Linked DNA regions of Homo sapiens. The protein of the gene in region 6 interacts with the protein of the main gene of each other region in a pairwise test. Each region holds a gene or a part of one and is shown on either strand. Other genes may lie near its edges. The genes, in order: SLC41A2, LAPTM5, ADGRG7, MARCHF2, PTTG1IP and LDLRAD1.

Region 1 (3,500 bases), on a different chromosome or scaffold from region 6:
TAAATAACTTAAGGCAATTTTATATGCTAAGTGAAGCTTCCTTGATGTCTCCAAAAGTCACAGAAAATTATTGCCTTTGGTTGGTTAAAGCCCTTTCTTTATTTCAAGAACATATATCTGAGACCCTTACTTCTTAAAACGAAACATGCTTTAGATTTATTTTAAAGTACACCATAAATCTGTATAGAATCCATGAACATATGTGAGGATTTGTGAATAAATGTTTGCCTCTGGCTTGGCTTATATACTCATGTTTTTTTCTTGTATTACTGTAAGTTTCTGTTTTCCTTAATTTGGCATCTAAAAATAATAAAACCACAATGAACTTTTAGCATGTCATCAACACTCACAAATCATATGTATTTACCATTTCCAGAACACAAATTTGCATTAAAACAACTCATTAGATTCCATAAATACTCTATCACTATTTATCAGGAATTACATATATGGCTCCAACTTTATACAGCATTCAGTCTAATTTTTGTGGTGATTTTTTTTTCCCTTTTGTTAACTGCCATGAAGCTACTTATTGGTGTGGGTTTCTGATGGGGAAAAACATTCCATTGGTAAATTTTAAGTACCACTTATAAGCTTATATTCTGAGATGGTTCTATACAGAGAACACTGCAGGTTGACTCCTAGCTGCTGTACACTTACAGGAAAGGACAGAAATCACAAAATATGATAAGCCTGTGTTCAACTTTTTTACTAGTAGTTATATAAACTTGGGTAACATACATAACTTCTATGATCCTTGCTTTTCTCATCTAAAATTAGAGATGATAATCCTTATTTTACAGAGTTTTAAACTCTACGAGAAAAAAGAAAGTGGGAATCATAACACATAGTAGGTATAAAACAAATGATAGTTATCCTAATCAGTCTCAACAGCAGTTCTAATGCAAATGAAGGCTACCATGGATTCATGGCATTGCTGCAACAATATTTATTTAAAGAGACTTGAGACAACACACAATATTTAGTTTTAAATCAACTTACCAAGACAGGAGTATAAGCCCTGACTTATCCAAGCCAATATGGCAAGAGTTATAAGGTCGCCAAAACTAGCAGCAATGGGTGTAGCAACATTATCAGGATTTATACCAGTCTTCTTTGAACCAACGATAACCCCAACCATTATTATTCCTAGAAGAAAGAATGTTCATTACTTTTTAGGCTATGATTTAAAGAAAATCAATCCCCCAAATACCAAAATGTGTAGGATAGAAAAACAGCATATCAATTCCAGTTAGACTGCTTAGATAAGCTGACTAAAGCAAACAAAACATTTACTCTAACGCTTTGGCAAAATGCCTTTCAACAAACTCCAAGTGGGGATCATAGAAAATTTAAGAAGTTCAGCATTGTATTTAGAGGCCTGAAAGCTACTAAAATTATGGTAAAGCTAAAATTTCAGATTTAGTGACATGTATATCTTAGATATAATGTATTTGTGTGTATTGAATCCAAAGGTTTTAATTTTAACCCTCAAATAAAGTATGAAAACATCAAAAAAAAAGGTGAGTCATATGTATATGTACAACAACTGGGAAGAAGGCCAACAAAACCAGATTTGTTTACATATGGCAGCTAGAAATGCTTATTTCATTTTATTACTTAAAGACGTTGAAGTATTAAGCAGCAGGACATAATTAAATTTTAAAACACTGAAGGCCAGAATACAAGAAACAGTCTTTGTAAAAGATATTCTTTAAACCTGAAGTTTCTGTCTATAAACCTACGAGAGAATAGAAGATGAAAATTTAACTGTGTACTTGTACTTTTACATCCTAATTTTCTTAAATTATACAAATGGGATAAAACTATTAACATTTATATCCACTCTAAATTGTGTAGATTTTGTCACACCAAGATACTCATTAAGAGGATGTAGTAAAGAGAAAACTTTAAATGTGCTAACCACAAATCAATATGAAAGCCTAAATATGGCTATGGAGAAAAACAGTAACAGAATCTCACAGCACTTTTAGAGTTAAAATGACTCTAAATGTTTTTGTTCCAGCATACTCACTTTATAGATAATAAAACTGAGGTCCTGTAGAGTAGGGCTTAAATTCTTGCCTAAAGTCACATAGCTTGTGACTCTAGCCCAGTGTTTTTTACTCTACCTATTAAAGCCAAAATTTTAATAAGCAGAATTTTTGTCTTGCATCAAACAGTGCCTTATATTTTAGTATTCTGGAGGCTTTTTAAATTACTAGACTTACCTTTCCCATAATATCATTGAAAAAGAAAAAAAGCTATAGCAGAAAACTTTTTAAAAAAAATACATTATGCAATAATCAGGCAAGATGTAATCGCTTAGAATCTTTTTCCAAAATCAGCACATTTGAAGATGTATATGGGAAGTTCTCCTACACATAGTACCATCTATATCTTTTCAACTGAAAACAAATATTTTGTATGTATCATAGTCCAGTGGAAAGAGCTAAGAGTTAGGAAACGTGTTTTAGTTCTGATTCAGCTGGTAACAAGTTGATGAGATTGGACAAGTCACCTTACCTAAGTTTTCTCACCTACAAATATGGCTAAGAGTTTCTACTTTACATATACTAAAGTGCTTATAAAGGTCAAGTTATCATAAAATTAGAACACACATTATTCAAAGTCAGAAGCTTTAAACAAATACTTTTTAAAATTCTGAATTTTGGATAGTTTTGAAAAGCTTTCAAATACTTGTTAGACTGAAAAATTTTAAATGACACTTTCTAAATGAAATAAAATCAGAAAGAAAAAAGAAGCAAATGAGCCTAAAAAAATAGCATGCTGATGGCATAATTATTTTTGTACCAACAATTTAATTTTCCAATAGCTTAACTTCACTCTGCTTTGGTCAATGTTAACTCCATTCAACTATAGTAATTCTTTATGAAGACAAGAAACTACCCCGATACAATTAAACTACTAAAACAAAATGCTTGAAAATATTTTGGAAATCGAGTTATAATTTTAATAAGATTCCCTAAATTCCCAGAACCTAGCCAAAAAAGTTAGCTGCATTGTATGATCACCTAACATGACAATAATCCACTTTAAACTTTGCTGGTGATATAAGGGCAAGAAAATGGCAATTATAAAATAAAAAGAACAAAGTCTTTATGATTGTGATTCCACAATAAGCTAATTCTCTAGTGTAAAGTTCATACGAATAAATATAAAGAAAAATAACCCAAATAAAAGTTCTAAAGTAGTTAATTTTTAAAACCTTCTGGCTCTTTAAATTCTATAGCCAACAATATGCTATCTTAAGTATAAGGTTATATTTGTATTGCCACAGAAACAGGGAAGAAATTTTTCTTGAAATCTGAAACAAAAAAATTTCAACAGAGGATGACTTTTGAAACCCAGAATTCCTGGAACACTTGTTACTCAAGTGACAAGCTAGTAAATCCCCTGCATGATGTCCAGAAAGGAGTTTCCCAATTTATTTAACTTACAGAAACAAATGAATGTCTAGGCGATTTTCCTGATCTTTT
Region 2 (3,500 bases), about 23 Mb from region 6:
AGTGACTTGCTGAAGACCAACCACGCAGCTAGTGACAGTGGGGCTTGGATTCAAACGCAGGCCAGTCCAAATCTAATTCCAGACAGCTGGAATTAGACATCTGAACGCAGGTGGCCTTTACGGATTCACATGCCCTAAATGGGCTGTCTCGGAGGATCCCAAGTAAAGTCAGAGGAGCTGGCATGGGAAAGCAAGAGAAAGGAGCTAAAAGCAGGAGAGGAGGCATGGAGGACACATGTCCCTGCCTTCTAACAGCTTGGCATGGGCAGGCCTGGGCCCAGCACAGCCTCACCACCCCTCCCAGAGCCGCAGGGCAGGGATCCACTCACCTTGAAGATAAGGACAGTGATGAAGGCGATGGAAAAGATGATCATCATCTTGATGAACTGGTTATGAGGCATATCCTCCTGGCTGGGGAGGTAATTCTGCAACAGATTTGGGGGCCACATCAATGTCTCTGGACATAAGGAATTCCAACAGCACCCACACATCCGGGAATAATGATCCCACCCTCCACACACACACGAGCACAGCGTGGCACAGCCGTCACCTTGGTCGACCGCCACAGCAGCCTTAGGAAGCAGGTGCTACCTTCAGCCCCATCCCACTGACGGGCAAACCAAGAAAAGCCAAGTGGCTACTATCTCCAGATCTGCTTCCCAGGCTGGCGCACCGGCCCATCCCCAGCTGGCAGGTGTCAGCTGCCCATGGGCCACACCTATGCTCTTCTCTACAAGATCATTTTGGCTGACAGGGACCACCTAATCCACTAATACCTGGGAGGTTACATTCCCTCCCCTAGGGGCAGCTTGAAACCAATGACTGATGCAGGGGAACTCGCCCTAGGTGAGACTGCCTCTGTGGTCATTTGCAAATATTACCACACATTCTTTGAGACGCCTCCCTTCTAAAGGTGGTGTTTATTTCCTCTCCCCTTGAGTGTGGGCTGGACTTAGCAACGCACTTCTAACTAACAGAATGTGGCAGAAGTGATAGAAGTCTTAAAAGACACTGCCTTTCCTCCTTGCTTATCTCTTACATCACTCCCGCAGGGGAAGCCAGCAGCCATGTCAGGAGAGCACTCAAGCAGCACTACTACAAGTCCACAGGATGAGGAATTAGGCAAAGAGCCCACGCCCTGTGAGTGAGCCACCAGGAGTTCATCCTTCAGATCTAATCAAGCCCTCAGTTGTCCACAGCCCCAGGTACCATCTCTGGTGCAGCCCCACCAGAGTCCCTGAGTCAGAAGAACCCAGCTAAGCCACTCCCAAGCTCCTGATCCTCAGAAGCTGTGTGAAATAATAAATGTTTATTGCTTTAAGCCATGATGCTTAGAGATAATTCATTAGACAACAATAAAAACTGATATTATGTCTGTGTTGCAATTCACATGCCAAAGCCCTCTCTGGGATCATGCAGGGCTGCTCCTACAGCCACATCTTTGCTTCTTTGCTTGGCTTCCTCCTTTTCTCGAACCTGCCTTCCTCACTCCTGACAAGTTTCTTCCTGAGAGGGCTCCCTCAATAAATCACCAGCACAAGAATCTTCCTCCCAAGCTCCAACTCCAGGGAACCTGGCCTAAACCACAGACACACAGAGACGTGAAGTAACCTGTTCAAGGCCACACAGCCAGCAAATGGGCATGGTTCCCTGCCCCAGACTCACCATGTGGTTCATGGACTTGAAGTTGAGATAGGTGGGCACTTCCATGTAGGAGCTGCAGAGGGTCAGGATGCTCAGGCAGAAGTCCAGCAGCTGCAGCGTCATCAGGGGGAACTTGGAGGAGCTCTGGGGAGGACAAATACAAGGAGGAGGAATGAGGAGCAGCAATTAAAGTCCCAGTTACTGAGCGGCACATAGTAGGCCCTCACTTGAGAGACCGTCTCAGCTACAGACATCAGTGACTCTCGTCCCCTGTGCACAGAGAGACATGAACACACAGATGTTCATACCAAGAGCTGGTGGCAGACCCAAGACTAGAACCAAGGTCTCCAGACTCCCGGGCCAGGGCCCTTCCATGATGTAGCCCCCCGGTCTCTTCAAGGACAACAGTTGGGGAGAGTGAGAAAAGCAGGTTTGGGAGACTGTGTCCTTGACTGGCAGCAGCCCTCAAGCCACCCCACAGTGGGCGCTCACTGGCATGAATCATCCTTCTCTTCCTTTCTTCAACTTGGTTCCAAAGAAGAAATAATACTGGGGGCTGGGGGCTAAAAAGCGCACATGTCCTTTCCTCAGGTGTCAATTCACTCCCAGCAGCACTGACTGAGTGCTGACCATGGGCTGCACCCCCAATGTGTGTGTTCCTCATGTAACCCTCATAAGGCAGGCTGATGAGATGTGATTGCAGGTACATTCCACAGAGGAAGAAACTTGGGGCAATGTGGAGGGACTCAGAGACTGGGTCAAGACACCAGCCAGGAAGAGGGCTCCTACCCTCCCCAGCCTGAGCACAGGGCCCGTGTCTGGTCCCCTCCCATCTCCCATGCCAGACCTGGGCTCTGCTGTCCGGTGAGAGGTGGGGGCTGGGTACTCACAGCACGGCTCCGGGAGGCCAACTTGAGGTAGGCGGGCAGCTCAATGTAGGAGCCCAGCAGGGTGAGCAGGCACAGGAGATAGTCCATGATTTGCAGGGACAGGAAGGGCAGCAGGTACTTCTCCCGGTTCTGAAAGGTAGGCCCAGCACCGTCAAGTGTCCCCTGCATGCAGCCAACACTCCGCCACCCAGCCTGATATCCTCATGCATCCCCTTCCCACCCTCTCCCAAACCTTCCCTGCCCTCCTCAGTTGAGGTCACCTCCCTCTGAGTGACACTCTGGGGACAGGGAGTGGATAAGACCCAGGCCCTGAATGAGAGGAGTCTTGGTGTCCCAGGAGACGTAAGGGAACCATCCCCATCTATCAGGGCTCAAAGAGCAGGATTTGACTCAATTTGCTCACAAGAACCCAGCAAGGAAGGGCTTTGTGCACTTTTTACAGAGGAGAGGGGACCAGAGAGGACTTGCTGGAGGTGGGGACACCAGGGCTAGATCGGGGAAGGAGACTAGGAGTGAACAGGAGGGAGGGGCGGGGCACTGGAGGCAGAAAGACCAACATGAGTGAAGGCCCGGAGGCAGCAGAGAGCCCCTCCCCCCCACCCCCCACTCCCCACCACGCCCCGCATACAATTGGACCTTCCTCCACCAGCCACTCCCAGGGGTCCAAAGTCACAGTAAGAGGCCCTGCCAGGAAGAGGCTGAAGTCCCTCTTCTTCAATTGAAAGCAAGTGACCACCATGACCAGTATTCATTCATATGCTCTCACAGCTGGGGACAAAATCACTGCAACAGTGGTTTCCTGGTGTCTCATGTGGTCGTCTAAAATCACTCAGGAGGCAACCAGAACAATCTTGACTGATCTCAGAGTCTTCAGGGACCACCTGCTCCATTTCTCCATTTCTCTAGCTGAACCCTTTGAGTTTCTGCACAAGCACCCACAGCCACCCTGCACAAGGCAAACGGCCT
Region 3 (3,500 bases), on a different chromosome or scaffold from region 6:
TTTGAAGGGTTTTTTGTGTCTTTATTTCCTTCAGTTCTGCTCTGATCTTAGTTATTTCTCGCCTTCTGCTAGCTTTTGAATGTGTTTGCTCTTGCTTCTCTAGTTCTTTTAATTGTGATGTTAGGGTGTCAATTTTAGATCTTTCCTGCTTTCTCTTGTGGGCATTTAGTGCTATAAATTTCCCTCTACACACTGCTTTGAATGTGTCCCAGAGATTCTGGTGTGTTGTGTCTTTGTTCTTGTTGGTTTCAAAGAACATCTTTATTTCTGCCTTCATTTCATTATTTACCCAGTATTCATTCAGGAGCAGGTTGTTCAGTTTCCATGTAGTTGAGCGGTTTTGAGTGAGTTTCTTAATCCTGAGTTCTAGCTTGATTGCACTGTGGTCTGAGACACAGTTTGTTATGATTTCTGTTCTTTTACATTTGCTGAGGAGTGCTTTACTATGACATGATTGTATATCTAGAAAACCCCATAGTCTCGGCCCAAAATCTCCTTAGCTGACAGGCAACTTCACCAAAGTCTCATGATACAAAATCAATGTGCAAAAATCACAAGCATTCTTATACACCAATAGTAGACAAACAGAGAGCCAAATCATGAGTGAACTCCCATTCACAATTGCTTTAAAAAGAATAAAATACCTAGGAATCCAACTTACAAAGGACGTGAAGGACCTCTTCAAGGAGAACTACAAACCACTACTCAGTGAAATAAAAGAGGATACAAACAAATGGAAGAACATTCCATGCTCATGGGTAGGAAGAATCAATATTGTGAAAATGGCCATACTGCCCAAGGTAATTTATAGATCAATGCCATCACCATCAAGCTACCAATGACTTTCTTCATAGAATTGGAAAAAACTACTTTAAAGTTCATACGGAACCAAAAAAAGAGCCCGCATCGCCAAGTCAATCCTAAGCCAAAAGAACAAAGCTGGAGGCATCACGCTACCTGACTTCAAACTATACTACAAGGCTACAGTAACCAAAACAGCATGGTACTGGTACCAAAACAGAGATATAGAACAATGGAACAGAAAAGAGCCCTCAGAAATGATGCCTCATATCTACAACCATCTGATCTTTGACAAATCTGACAAAAACAAGAAATGGGAAAATGATTCCCTATTTAATAAATGGTGCTGGGAAAACTGGCTAGCCGAATGTAGAAAGCTGAAACTAGATCCCTTGCTTATACCTTATACAAAAATTAATTCAAGATGGATTAAATACTTAAATGTTAGACCTAAAACCATAAAAACCCTAGAAGAAAACCTAGGCAATACCATTCAGGACATAGGCATGGGCAAGGACTTCATGTCGAAAACACCAAAAGCAATGGCAGCAAAAGCCAAAATTGACAAATGGGATCTAATTAAACTAAAGAGCTTCTGCACAGCAAAAGAAACTACCATCAGAGTGAACAGGCAACCTACAGAATGGGAGAAAATTTTTGCAATCTACTCATCTGACAAAGGGCTAAAATCCAGAATCTACAATGAACTCAAACAAATTTACAAGAAAAAAACAAACAACCCCATCAAAAAGCGAGCGAAGGATATGAACAGACACTTCTCGACAGAAGACATTTATGCAGCCAATAGACACATGAAAAAATGCTCATCATCACTGGTCATCAGAGAAATGCAAATCAAAACCACAATGAGATACCATTCTCACACCAGTTACAATGGCGATCATGAAAAAGTCAGGAAACAACAGGTGCTGGAGAGGATGTGGAGAAATAGGAACACTTTTACACTGTTGGTGGAACTGTAAACTAGTTCAACCATTGTGGAAGTCAGTGTGGCGATTCCTCAGGGATCTAGAACTAGAAATACCATTTGACCCAGCCATCCCATTACTGGGTATATACCCAAAGGATTATAAATCATACTGCTATAAAGACACATGCACACATATGTTTATTGCGGCACTATTCACAATAGCAAAGACTTGGAACCAACCCAAATGTCCAACAATGATAGACATTGTGTATGTGGCACATATACACCATGGAATACTATGCAGCCATAAAAAATGATGAGTTCATGTCCTTTGTAGGGACATGGATGAAGCTGGAAACCATCATACTCAGCAAACTATCGCAAGGACAAAAAACCAAGCACCGCATGTTCTCACTCATAGGTGGGAATTGAACAATGAGAACCCATGGACACAGGAAGGGGAACATCACACACCAGGGCCTGTTGTGGGGTGGGGGGAGGGGAAGGGATAGCATTAGGAGATATACCTAATGTTAAGTGACGAGTTAATGGGTGCAGCACACCAACATGGCACATGTATGCATATGTAACTAATCTGCATGTTGTGCACATGTACCCTAAAACTTAAAGTACAATAAAAAAGAAAAAGAAAAAAAGAAAATATTATTTTCCAATTTTTATTTATTTTGGGGGACTCTTTTTTCTATAAACATCTTTTAAATTTTCTTTATCTGATGTTCTGCAATTTTACCATGATGTGGTTTGTTTTTGCTTTGCCTACTTGAAAAGTCATCCTTCAATCAAGAAAACTTTTTAGTTATTACTTCTTTAAGAGTTGCTTCTCCCATATTTTCTATTCTCTTCTGAAATGTCTCATAGACCCTGTTGGACTTTAGCCTTCTATACATCAAATTTTTTAATCTCATTATTGTTAACATCTCTTTATATTACTGTGTTGAATTACAGTTTCCTAGCTTTCTTTTCCATTCCCTAGTTTTCTCTGTAATTATTAGGGTGTGGAGGGGGGACTTTATTTGTTTGTTTTGTAGAGACAGGATCTCCCTCTGTCACCCAGGTTGGAGTGCAGAGGTGTAATCATAGCTCACTGTAGCCTCCATCTCCTGGGCTCAAGGGATCCTTCTGCCACAGTCTCCCCAGTAGCTGAGACTACAGGCAGGCGCCACTACGCCTGGTTATTTTTGAAATAATATTTTGTGTTTTGCAGAGATGAGGTCTTGCTACGTTGCCAAGGCTGCTCTCAAACTCTTGGCTTCAAGTGACACTCCAGCCTGAGCTCCCAAATGCTGGGAATACAGGCATGAATCACCATGCTCAGCACCTTAATGATTTCTAACCTCCTTTTAAATCACTCATTAATTTTTTTATCATTACTATATTTTCTATTTTAAAAGTATTATTTGGTTCTTTTTCAAATTCTCCTATTCTTTTTAAAATACTGTATTTTTCTTTTTTTATTTTTCTCCTGTATTTTAAAGGCTTAATCTTGTTAAACATATTTTATATTCTCTTTCAGATGGTTTTGTTATATCCAATTCTGGGAGGGTTAATCCTTTTGATGACATCTGATGTCTCTCCAGCATCATGGTTCGCATGTAATTTTGTATTGTAAACTCATCTTTGTCTTATTTATTATTCTTCCATGAGACTTTTATGGGTTTTGTTTGTGGAAATATTTCCACAGGAAAATTTCATGATTACTTCTTTTACGATCCTGGGGCACCATCAGTAGTAGTCTTGAACTAGTATT
Region 4 (3,500 bases), on a different chromosome or scaffold from region 6:
CCACCTCGGCCTCCCAAAGTGTTGGGATTACAGGCATGAACCACTGTGCCTGGCCTCTTCTCTGAATTTGCTCTCCCAAACTTTTTCACAGTTTCCCAGAACAAGCTCCAAACTGACATGATTCTTCCTCAAGATTCTCGTCACTTCTGTTTCCCTGGGTTGGTTTCCGGACAAAGGGTTCCTTTTTTGTTAACTTTGTTTGTGTGTGTACTTGGGGGAGGGTGGGATCGGGGTATGGGTTCAGAAAGGAGGCAGGCAGGCATGCCCTTTTGCCATTGCAGGAGGAAATAGCAGTCCAGGGACAGGACTGTTGAGAAAGCAGCCATGAGCAGCCTGTTGGGCTCTTTTTAAAGCCGCCCAACTCCACCCCGCAGCATGAGAATCTGAGAAAAGGATAGAAAACAGTCATTTCCAGGCAGGCGTGGTCGCTCATGCCTGTAGTCCCAGCACTTTGGAAGTCCAAGGCTGAAGGATCGCTTGAGCCCAGAAGCTCAAGACCAGCCTGGTCAACATAGTGAGACCCCCCTCTCTAGAAAAAGTTAAAAAATATTAGCTGTGTGGCGTGGTGCCACCTGTAGTCCCAGCTACTCGGGAGACTGAGGCAGGAGGATCGCTCGAGCTAGGGAGTCCGAGGCTGCAGTGAGCTGTGATTGCACCACTGCACTCCAGCCTGGGTGACTCAAAAAAAAAAAAAAAAAAGAAAGAAAAAAAAATACAGTCTCTCTGAGAGGAAATTGGCGTTGTCTGGAAAATAGCTCTTCTTTGTGTGACCTCACAGTCTGCCTTCTGGCCAGAAATGTTTGGGAAACAGTGACTCATGGCTGTTTGGCCTCTGGGCCACGCCCCCTGCCTCCTGAGCTGCCCTGGGAAGGACCCGGCATCCCCAGAGACTGGGCCAGGGCTGGAGACTTTTCCGAGGCAGCTTTCTGCAGATGCTTTTTATTTCTATTTCCCCCTCACAAGGGCAGAGGAGCAGGTGAGCACTTCTCTCTGGATGCACAGGTTTCTCAGGTAGCACGGGCTTCAGGTGTGATTAGATCCAGGGGCCCGCAAAGATGTCCTTAAGAATCTACCTTTCCCAGGCCTTGCGCAGTGGCTCACGCCTGTAATCCCAGCACTTTGGGAGGCCGAGGCGGGTGGATCACGAGGTCAGGAGATCGAGACCATCCTGGCTAACACGGTGAAACCCCGTCTCTACAAAAAATACAAAAAATTAGCCGGGCGTGGTGGCCGGCGCCTGTAGTCCTAGCTACTCTGGAGGCTGAGGCAGGAGAATGGCATGAACCTGGGAGGTCGAGCTTGCAGTGAGCCGAGATCGCGCCACTGCACTCCAGCCTGGGTGACAGAGCAACACTGTCTCAAAAAAAAGAAAAAAAAAAATCTACCTTTCCCTGTCTCTTGGCTCTGCTCTCCTCTGTGCTGGCATCATTCACAGGCTCCACACAGACTAGGCAGCTGCAGGAGCTCCAGGCTTCTGTCAGCCTTGTGGCCGACAGTTCTGGAGTTTACGGGGAAACAAAGAATTTTAGGAATAGATTATCGGTGACTCTGATGGTATCATACAAGCCTGAGTTGGTTGCATGAGCAGGGGTGCGTGCTGTTCTATTTTCTTTTTCTTTTTTTCAAATGGTCTCACTCTGTTGTCCAAGCTGGAGTATAGTGGTACAATTATGGGTCATTGGAGCTTTGAACTCCTGGGCACATGTGATCCTCCTGCCTCAGCCTCCCAAGTAGCTGGGACCACAACATGTACCACCACGCCAAGATAAGTCTTTAAAAAAAATTTTGGGACCGGGCGTGGTGGCTCACGCCTGTAATCCCAGCACTTTGGGAGGCTGAGGCGGGCAGATCACGAGGTCAGGAGATTGAGACCATCCTGGCTAACACGGTGAAACCCCGTCTCTACTAAAATACAGAAAAAAAAAAAATTAGCTGGGCATGGTGGCATGTGCCTGTAGTCTCAGCTACTCGGGAGGCTGAGGCTACTCGGGAGGCTGAGGCAGGATAATCGCTTGAACCTGGGAGGTGGAGGTTGCAGTGAGCTGATATCACACCACTGCACTCCAGCCTGATGACAGAGCGAGACTCCATCTCAAAAAAAAAAAAAGAAAATTTTTTTTTTATAGAGATGAGATCTCACTAGGTTGCCCACACTGGCCTTGAACTCCTCGGCTCAAGTGATCCTCCCGCTTCAGCCTTCCAAAGTGCTAGAATTACAAGCATGAGCTACTGCTCCCGGCCTGGTGTTCTGACTGGTCCAGTATGAGGCCTGAGGTCATGAGGAGTGTTGTCTGCTCTGCCCTAGTCCTTGAGGATTTTTTTTTTTTTTTGAGACGGAGCCTCACTCTGTCACCCAGGCTGGAGTGCAGTGGTGTAATCTCGGCTCACTGTAACCTCTGCCTTCCAGGCTGAAGTGATACTCCTGCCTCAGCCTCCCCAGTAGCTGGGATTACAGGCACCTACCACCACGCCCAGCTAATTTTTGTATTTTTAGTAGAGACGGGGTTTCACCATGTTGGCCAGGCTGGTCTTGAAATCCTGACCTCATGATCCTCCTGCCTTGGCCTCCCAAAGTACTGGGATTACAGGAATGAGCCACCTCACCCAGCTGGTCTTTGAGGATTAAGAGTCGAGGATTGGGGGCCGGGTGCGGTGGCTCACGCCTGTAATCCCAGCACTTTGGGAGCCTGAGGCAGGCGGATCACAATATCAGGAGATCGAGACCATCCTGGCTAACACGGTGAAACCCCGTCTCTACTAAAAATACAAAAACACAATTAGCCGGGCGTGGTGGCAGGTGCCTGTAGTTCCAGCTACTCGGGAGGCTGAGGTGGGAGAATGGCGTGAACCCGGGAGGCGGAGCTTGCAGTGAGCCGAGATCGCACCACTGCACTCCAGCCTGGGTGACAGAGCGAGACTCTGTCTCAAAAAAAAAAAAAAAAAAAAAAAGAGTTGAGGGTGGGGAAGTTGTGCAGGACAATCAGGGTGGGTATTTTAGGGAAATTTGGAGAGGACATGGGGGCGGGTATAACAGATGCCCATCTTGGGTCTGAGAGGGTGCTGCAGGGTCCCTGGGAAGGGAACACATCACTCCACCTGTGGGAGTCTGGGAAGGCTTCGCAAGGTTACCTTCCCTGCATCTCCTTCCCAAAGGGAAGGACATTTAGAGCTGGGCATTGAAGGATGAGTAGGAGTTCACTAAGTGGCAGCATGGGGTAAGGGTGAGCTTGTGATCCAGTGGGTAGTGAAGCAGGTATAGACAGAAAGCCCAATCATTGCTCATGGGTCCTATCTCTGTGTCCAGTGATGGTCCTTTCTGCCGGATCTGCCATGAGGGAGCGAACGGGGAGTGCTTGCTGTCCCCGTGTGGCTGCACCGGCACGCTGGGTGCCGTGCATAAGAGCTGTCTGGAGAAGTGGCTTTCCTCATCTAACACCAGCTACTGCGAGCTGTGCCACACGGAGTTTGCAGTGGAGAAACGGCCTCGACCCCTCACAGAG
Region 5 (3,500 bases), on a different chromosome or scaffold from region 6:
ACCCCGTCTCTACTAAAAAATACAAGAAATTAGCCGGACGTGGTGGCGGGCACCTGTAGTCCCAGCTACTCAGGAGGCTGAGGCAGGAGAATGGCGTGAACCTGGGAGGCGGAGCTTGCAGTGAGCCAAGATAGTGCCATTGCACTCCAGCCCGTCTCAAAAATAAATAAATAAATAAATAAAGGCAAACTAGAAAACAACTTGAATCTCACAAGAGCTGATTTCCTTAATTTAAAAACGCCTCCAAAATCAAATATACAAAGATACGCACACAAAAAAAGAGGGCTGTCTACGCAAGCAGGGATTCTTAAGCTGGGAAAACTGGAGATTCTAGGGGAATTCACAGGTGAGTTTCAGGGGTGACACATGAACAAAACATACTGAGCAGAGAAGTCAAACACGTTGCCTTCAAACTCACCCTTTTCCCCACACCTTCTGTAACGTGGTGAGATAGAGCTCAGTGCTGGGGCTGACCACCTTGAAGGAGGTCCTCCAGGTTCCCCAGGGCTGCTTTCCCGGTCAGCAGATCACCCCTGGCTTCCCAACCTCTCCCTGGGAGTCACAGAGCTACTGGCAGCACATTTTCTAGCAACTTCTGCTAACTGAGCACATAATACTATTTTCTTTTTTTTTTGAGACAGTCTCGCTCTGTCGCCAGGCTGGAGTGCAGTGGCACGATCTCGGCTCACTGCAAACTCCGCCTCCCGGGTTCAAGCAATTCTCCTGTCTCAGCCTCCCAAGTAGCTGGGATTACAAGTGCATGCCACCACGCCCACCTAATTTTTGTATTTTTAATAGAGACGGGGCTTCACCATGTTAGCCAGGATGGTCTCAATCTCCTGACCTCTTGATCCACCCGCCTCCGCCTCCCAAAGTGCTGGGATTACAGACGTGAGCCACCGCGCCCGGCCCATACTACTATTTTCAAAGAAGCATCGATTTTGCAAGCAGCAAATGAAAACAATGACTTACCCCAACAAACTCCCCAGCGTGCAGAGCTCAATTTACAAAGGGAAGCCGGTGGCAAGACGCTTGTAACTGGGTAGTCCAGACAAGCCTTGTTAGTGTTGCACCAAAGACACTGAAAGAGACCAACATTAAGCAAGCATTAGAAACAACAGAAAAACCAAAGAACTGTCCAGGCTCTGCCCACAGCCCGCCAGTGCTGCCATCGCTCTGTGGATGGCTGTAAAGGCTCAACCTCCCCCTCAACGCCTCATCTCTGCCTTCACCCTCAGCGCCCTTCGGTCCACACCCAGCACAGCGGCCAGCAGCCCTGTCAGCTCTCCACGGACTCATCCAAGGCCCGCGTCACTCAGGCCTCTTCCACAACTCACCCTGCTGAGGCCACGGGGCCTCTGTGTTGGCAGCCTCCTGAGTGCTGCCAACCCCACCTCATGCTCTCAGCCTCAGCTCAGCCTGCCGGTTCTGCCTGGAGCACTCTCCCCACATCTGTGTGGCTCCCCACTGACTGGATGGGCCCTGCCTCGATCAACAGACTGGACACAACCAGCCGCCTCCACCCCCTCCTCCTCACCTCCTGTGAGGTTTGCTTCCGTAGACCTCTCCTCCCCACACGCCGGGCACCTGTGCACTTCACTGGCTGAAGTCTCCCAAGAACACAGGACACAGCCTGGCCCATCACAGGCACTCACTGAGTTTGTGTTGAATGGACTTGGGTGAGCATGGTCACCATCTGTAGCAAGGACCATGCTTCCTACCTCTGACCTTCACAACTGCACTAAGTCGCACAGCTTGAAAGATGATGCAACTACGGCTCAGCCCGCCCTAAACTGACAGCTGGAGAGAACCTCATAGACGCTCTTGTCTGAGCCCCTTGAACGTCAGGTGTGAGGCCGCAGTGGTGTGGAGACAACACCATCACACCCGTGTGTGTGTGTGTAAGAGCCCAGAGCTGGGCCCAGCCCATGCCACAGCAGTACACAACGAGGCCCGAAAGCGGTCTGTGAGCCAGGCACTGAGCGTGACAGGGGACAGCCTAGCACGCAGGCAGATGGCACAGGAAGGGGTGAAAGAACTGCTGTTCGGGTCAGGCACGGTGGCTCACGCCTGTAATCCCAGCACTTTGGGAGGCCAGGAGGGCGGATCACCTGAGGTCAGAAGTTCGGGATCAGCCTGACCAACATGGAGAAACCCCATCTTTGTTAAAAATACAAAATAAGCCGGGCGTGGTGGCACATGCCTGTAATCCCAGCTACTCCAGAGGCTGAGGCAGGAGAATCGCTTGAGCCCAGGAGGCGCAGGTTGCGGTGAGCCGAGATCGCACCATTGCACTCCAGCCTGGGCAACAAGAGTGAAACTCCGTCTCAAAAGGAAAAAAAAAAGAACTGCCGTTCGGCAGCACCTCATGCGCCAGCCCAAGTCCAGACCCAAGTCCAGACTGCCTGTTACTCCCAATCTCCACATTAACAGTGTTACTGACTTTTTAATAGGATAGAAAGTCATGGCGTTTTTGGCCCAGGTTAGGGCAAAAGTCTATTACAAAAAAATATTAATTACAATGTCCCCTGGGCCTTCTTTCCCAGGGCTACTTATACAGTGACCACCTTAGTGTCGTGTTTAAGTGGTTTCCAGCATAATGTAACAATTAACAGTTAAACCCTGTTTATTCTGGTCATTTGGGAGTATCTTCCATTTCAGGGGTTTTGCTTGCAATTAACGATTTTTGGCTAATCCTCCCTTTTCAAGTGGCTCAAGTTGTAAATGTCTGATTTTCCATTTTTCCATGACAGTGGTACCATGAGCCACAGGACTGCACTGGGAGGATACGGTGTTCTCTGGTGGTTGTGCTGCTTTTCTGATCGATGAAGTAATATGCACATAGCAAGCAGCTCAGGCAGCAGCACAGACACACAGCCCGCCACGGCCTCGGCAACACAGAGACACACAGCCCGCCACGGCCTCAGCAGCACAGAGACACAGCCCACCACGGCCTCAGCAGCAGAGACACAGCCCACCACGGCCTCAGCAGCAGAGACACAGCCCACCACGGCCTCAGCAGCAGAGACACAGCCCACCACGGCCTCAGCAGCAGAGACACAGCCCGCCACGGCCTCGGCAACACAGAGACACACAGCCCGCCACGGCCTCAGGAGCGTGGACACAGCCCACCATAGCCACTGCTCCAACACGCAGGTCCTCTTGAGACCTCCCAGGCACTGACACCTCCTTCCAGAAACCTCCTGTGTGCCCAAGAGCACACCCACACACGCCTGGAGCTACTGTAGGGCAAGCGGCCCTCTTCACCGCCCTGTCTGGGTTCAGAACTGGAGTCAGGCCTTCAGCCCTTCTGGACTGGCCCCATCCACAATGACCTGGGCAAGTCCCTCAGCCGCCTCATCCACGAGATGGCTGTCATCACCACACCCTGCCCAGGGTGGTGAGGGTTACACAGGGTACTATGGCAAAAACGCACTCTAGGCTACAAAGCCACATACAATAGTGAGCTATGTTTAAAGCTGAAATGACTTCCAATAGAA
Region 6 (4,283 bases):
CTCCCCTGCTTACAAAATAATAAAAGAAGGCTTTACTGAGGACCTCCTGGGTGCCCTGCTGTGCAGCTTGCCCTGGTCCTTGCCCTCTGCAGCTTGTTATTGCACTTAGAAGGCAAGGCATGGACATGCCTGAAGGGGTGTGGGAGCTACTGACGTGCCCAGGCCACAGGTACCTCAGAGAAAGGGGCAGGAGCAGGTGTGATTCATCCCTGTGACCCCAGGGCCCAGCCCAGAGCCAGGCACGTGGTGGGGGCTTTTGTTTTTTTTGTTTTTTTTGTTTTTTTTTTGAGGCGGAGTCTTGCTCTATTGCCCAGGCTGAAGTGCAGTTGCATGATCTCAACTCACTGCAACCTCTGCCTTCTGGGTTCAAGCGATTCTCCTGCCTCAGCCTCCCGAGTAGCTGGGATGACAGGCGCCCGCCACCATGCCTGGCTAATTTTTGTATTTTTAGTAGAGACGGGTTTCACCATGTTGGCCAGGCTGGTCTTGAACTCCTGACCTCAGGTGATCCGCCCACCTTGGCCTCCCGAAGTGCTGGGATTACAGGTGTGAGCCACCACACCGGCCTGGGGCTTTGTGAACACTCTGTGAATATGCCGACCTGGGGGTCCAGGAGGCAAGAGAAGGCCCCCAGTATGGGTCAGTCCAGGTTATTTCCAATCCATTCACATTTCTGATGCAGTGTCCTCAGAAGCAGAATGGGATTTCCACAGGCAGGTAAGGGGAGGGTGCAAAGAGAGGGCATTCCAGGCAGAGGGCGTGGCAGGAGTAAAGGCCCAGTGGTTGCAGGTGGGGGAGCACAAATGGCCTGGGGTGGTGGGACTCCAAGATGGATGTGTATTGGGAGGGGAGACAATAGCAGGAGAGGCAGCATAAATCTAAAACCTGTCATCCCTACAGCCCTAGTTGGTGGCTCCTTGGCCATCAGCAAACAGGGTAAACTCAGGTAACCAGGGAGGCAGCGTGACTCTGGGCAGGGAGAGGTGTCCTGATCAGCCAAGCAGCTCCTCAAATATTTGTGCAGCACAGACCATGCACAAGGTGGGGCCATGGGAGAACCCGCAGAACCAAGGCTCCTGCCCAGGTGAAGCTGTTGCACTTCAAAGCCAGAAAGCCCTTAGGTGCCAGTCCTCTCCCTGTACCGATGAGGAAAAGGAGGTGATTCTTTCCACAACCCCGCCCATCATGAGTCAGGACTTAGAAATAAACAAACACCAGCTCGGAGCAACAAAAGCCCTGGGGCTTTGTAACCAGAGAGACCTCAGTTCACATTTGAACCCTGGCCCTCCAACCTCCCTGCTGTGTGACCTTGGCCTGGTTACTCAACCTCTCTTAGTTTCAGCTGTCTCATCTGTTATTGCCCCATAACAGGGCCCCTGTCTCAGAGCTGTCCTGAGGATTAAAGAGATCATGCAGTGCCAGGCACCTAACTGGGGATGGATTCTTTATAGCTGGTATTTTAATCTACCTCTCTGAGTGTGTTTCGTCATTGATCAAATGTGGGCCAAGCCAGGGCATATGCAAAGCTCAGTACATGTGTGTTTCTTCCTTCTTCTATTTTCAGAAGGGTAAAGAGGACTGTCCTGGTCACACCATGGGCCAGTGGCACATAGTAGGGCTAAATAAATGTGTCACTTTATCCATCAGAGTTAAAGAGAATTGCCCAGGTCACCCACTGAGTCAAGAATTTGACGCTGGTGCTCTTTTCTCTGTGTTACAGGTGGGCACTGTATGCAGTTTGGTGCCTGTGAGGTAGGCAGCACACAGTAGGTGCTTAATGAATGCATGTGCATGGAGAGAATGAATAACCCTATTAAGCAAGTGACTGTCAGCATGGCTGGCCAGGAAGCTGGGAGCAGACAACGTTAACATGGAGGCAGAGGTCTGAGGGACAGTGGGAGCCTTGAACCCTCCTCATGTCTCTATCGCCAACTGCCAGCTTCAAGGGAGCCCCACAGGGCACTGGCCCCAGGCCCTCCAGTTCTTTACCTTCCCCTCCAGGGTGGGCTTTGGATTCAGCAGCAGTGTAGCCATTCTCTCCCTGCCCAAGAGAACAGAGTGAGGGGTGGGCTTAGGTGAGGTGAGCTCCAGCCTCAGGGAGGCAGACAACAGGGTTTTCAGAGGGGTCACTGAGAGAGTCTTAGGTAGAACCACGGGTCCGTCACACCCCAGCATCTCACGCCCCAGATGCATCATGCCCGCTTCATATGTCCACACCTTTGCCTGCACTGTGCCCTCTGCCTGGAAAGCCTTTTTCTCTGCTGTCCACCTGATAAATATTCATCCTTCAAACCGGCTTGGGCAGCGACTCCTGGGTGAGGCTTTCCCTGATACCCTCCTCCCCAGTAAAACTGGCCGCTCTTCCCTCCTGTCCACCTGGCTCCTCTGTTTCCATACCAGCACTTGCCACCTGGACTGTATTGCTGGGTCATTGGTAGGGTCCCCTACACCCTGGGAGTGAGCCCCGGGGCAGGACGGGGGCTGATTTTCCTCCGTGTCTCCCATGTATGCCCACTCTCTACTGCCCACTCCTCATCCCAAGGTTTGCTCTCCCAAGATCAGGAGCCTGGTCAGGGCGGCTCTTACCTGGGGACAGCTCTTACTTGGAGACAACTCTTACCTGGGGACAGCTCTCACCTGGGGACAGCTCTCACTTGGGGACAGCTCTTACTTGGAGACAACTCTCACCTGGGGACAGCTCTCACCTGGGGGAAGACCTTGTTCATGTCTTCGGTTTCCTGCTGCCCGACTGGGGCTGTGTGCAGAGAGCTCAGCACGGGTTCCCTGCATTGTCACCAAGGCCAACCTGGAGGAGGGACAAGCAGGAGGCCTTGCCCGGGCCACACCCTCCCTGTGGGCAGGCCCCTGTCAGCTGCCTTCCAAGCAGAGGCAAAGGCAGGAGGGCCCCTCTCCGGCCAGGCTATTCCCTCATCTGCCATCTGACAGCAACATTGCGAGGCTGGAATCCTCATCCCTATTCCACAGATGAAGAGCCAGAGGTTCAGAGAGGGAGAAACTGCCCCAAGTCTCACAGTGCATGGGAGGAGTGAAACCCAGAAACTTTTCAGAAAGTGCATTTTCCTCCACATCAGAGATGGAACCGGAGGAGCTCAGGTTCCAGGGGTATGAAGATGCAGGCAGAAACTCCCAGAATTGACGTTTCGGTGGCTAGAAAGTAGGGGTCATTTTCTCATTGATGTTCTTCTGTTCAACTACATAGGTGACCTAGATTGAAAGAATATGCATTTTCCACTAAAATTATAAAGCAAATATAATTTTAAATTGTTTCATTTAGAAACGTGGCAATGTGAATTTTTACTGCCCCTGAGGTGGTGCTGAGGTAGGGAAGAGGCGGGGGGCTGGTTGCTTGCGTGAACAACCCCTTCTATGTCCCCAGTGAGTGGGTTTCCCTAGCAGCCTGTCCCACTGCTGAGTAAACCAAGGCCCTGGAATCTTGAGGGACAGGTCCAAGGACCCGGACCAAGGGAGGAGAGGTGTCTACCTCCAGAAATGAGCTCAGGAGTTCTTGCACCTGCCTCTGATGCCCATAGATTTTCCAACCTGCAATCAGCCTTTTCTTTTGCATTGGGAAATAAAATGATGAATCCACGTGGGTGCAAGTAGGAGGCACAGACACAGGGGCAGCCCTTGGGAGGCAGCAAGTAACATTGTGAAGAGCTGAGCCCTAGGCCGGGAGAACAGGACTCTCATTAGGGCCCTACCACTGGCTCTGACGGGTGACTCACTCCCCTTCCCTGCGCCTCAGTTCCTTCATCCAGAAAATAAAGATATAAGCTAGATGAAGGGGGTGTTTTAGTTTAAGGTTCCCCAGAATCAGACTCTAAGACAAGATTTGAGGGCAAGTAGAGTTAATTGGGAGTGATCCCAGGAAATGCTGGTCGGGGGGTGAGGGAAATGAGACATGGAAGAGAAGGATCCGATAACAGTCGTGTTATGAAGCAGGTTTCCGCTGTGGGCAAGTGGAATTTAGCCCTGCTGGGGCACTCGGGGAAGCTAGGGGAGAAGATGCCCCTCAGAGTTATCCCACTCAAGGTGAGGGGAACTGGGGTAATAATCTGCCAGCTCCTGCCAGTCTTGGTTGAGAATGGCCAGAGGAGGCCAGGCATGGTGGCTCATGCCTGTAATCCCAGCACTTTGGGAGGCCGAGGCAGGTGGATCACCTGAGATCAGGAGTTCAAGACCAGCCTGGCCAACATAGTGAAACCCCGTCTTTACTAAAAATACAAAAAATTAGCCGGGCATGGTGGCAGGCGCCTGTCATC

Evidence for each region.
Region 1: the proteins of LDLRAD1 (region 6) and SLC41A2 interact in binary tests that used the Homo sapiens proteins (3 or more experiments, as listed by UniProt).
Region 2: the proteins of LDLRAD1 (region 6) and LAPTM5 interact in binary tests that used the Homo sapiens proteins (3 or more experiments, as listed by UniProt).
Region 3: the proteins of LDLRAD1 (region 6) and ADGRG7 interact in binary tests that used the Homo sapiens proteins (3 or more experiments, as listed by UniProt).
Region 4: the proteins of LDLRAD1 (region 6) and MARCHF2 interact in binary tests that used the Homo sapiens proteins (3 or more experiments, as listed by UniProt).
Region 5: the proteins of LDLRAD1 (region 6) and PTTG1IP interact in binary tests that used the Homo sapiens proteins (3 or more experiments, as listed by UniProt).

The regions. Positions count from the first base shown.
Region 1 is NC_000012.12:104,885,291-104,888,790, forward strand, and holds part of SLC41A2 (solute carrier family 41 member 2), read right to left. Parts: intron 1,150-3,500; coding exon 1,003-1,149; intron 1-1,002. UniProt on the Homo sapiens protein: Acts as a plasma-membrane magnesium transporter. Can also mediate the transport of other divalent metal cations in an order of Ba(2+) > Ni(2+) > Co(2+) > Fe(2+) > Mn(2+).
Region 2 is NC_000001.11:30,737,275-30,740,774, forward strand, and holds part of LAPTM5 (lysosomal-associated transmembrane protein 5), read right to left. Parts: intron 2,664-3,500; coding exon 2,535-2,663; intron 1,959-2,534; exon of another isoform or gene 1,882-1,958; intron 1,789-1,881; coding exon 1,666-1,788; intron 426-1,665; coding exon 330-425; intron 1-329. UniProt on the Homo sapiens protein: May have a special functional role during embryogenesis and in adult hematopoietic cells.
Region 3 is NC_000003.12:100,616,101-100,619,600, reverse strand, and holds part of ADGRG7 (adhesion G-protein coupled receptor G7 isoform 1 precursor), read right to left. Parts: intron 1-3,500. UniProt on the Homo sapiens protein: Orphan receptor.
Region 4 is NC_000019.10:8,423,305-8,426,804, forward strand, and holds part of MARCHF2 (E3 ubiquitin-protein ligase MARCHF2), read left to right. Parts: intron 1-3,304; coding exon 3,305-3,500. UniProt on the Homo sapiens protein: E3 ubiquitin-protein ligase that may mediate ubiquitination of TFRC and CD86, and promote their subsequent endocytosis and sorting to lysosomes via multivesicular bodies.
Region 5 is NC_000021.9:44,860,191-44,863,690, forward strand, and holds part of PTTG1IP (pituitary tumor-transforming gene 1 protein-interacting protein isoform 1 precursor), read right to left. Parts: intron 1,082-3,500; coding exon 973-1,081; intron 1-972. UniProt on the Homo sapiens protein: May facilitate PTTG1 nuclear translocation.
Region 6 is NC_000001.11:54,015,387-54,019,669, forward strand, and holds the start of LDLRAD1 (low-density lipoprotein receptor class A domain-containing protein 1), read right to left. Parts: upstream 2,801-4,283; 5' UTR 2,791-2,800; coding exon of another isoform or gene 2,727-2,790; coding exon 2,706-2,726; intron 2,042-2,705; coding exon 1,990-2,041; intron 1-1,989.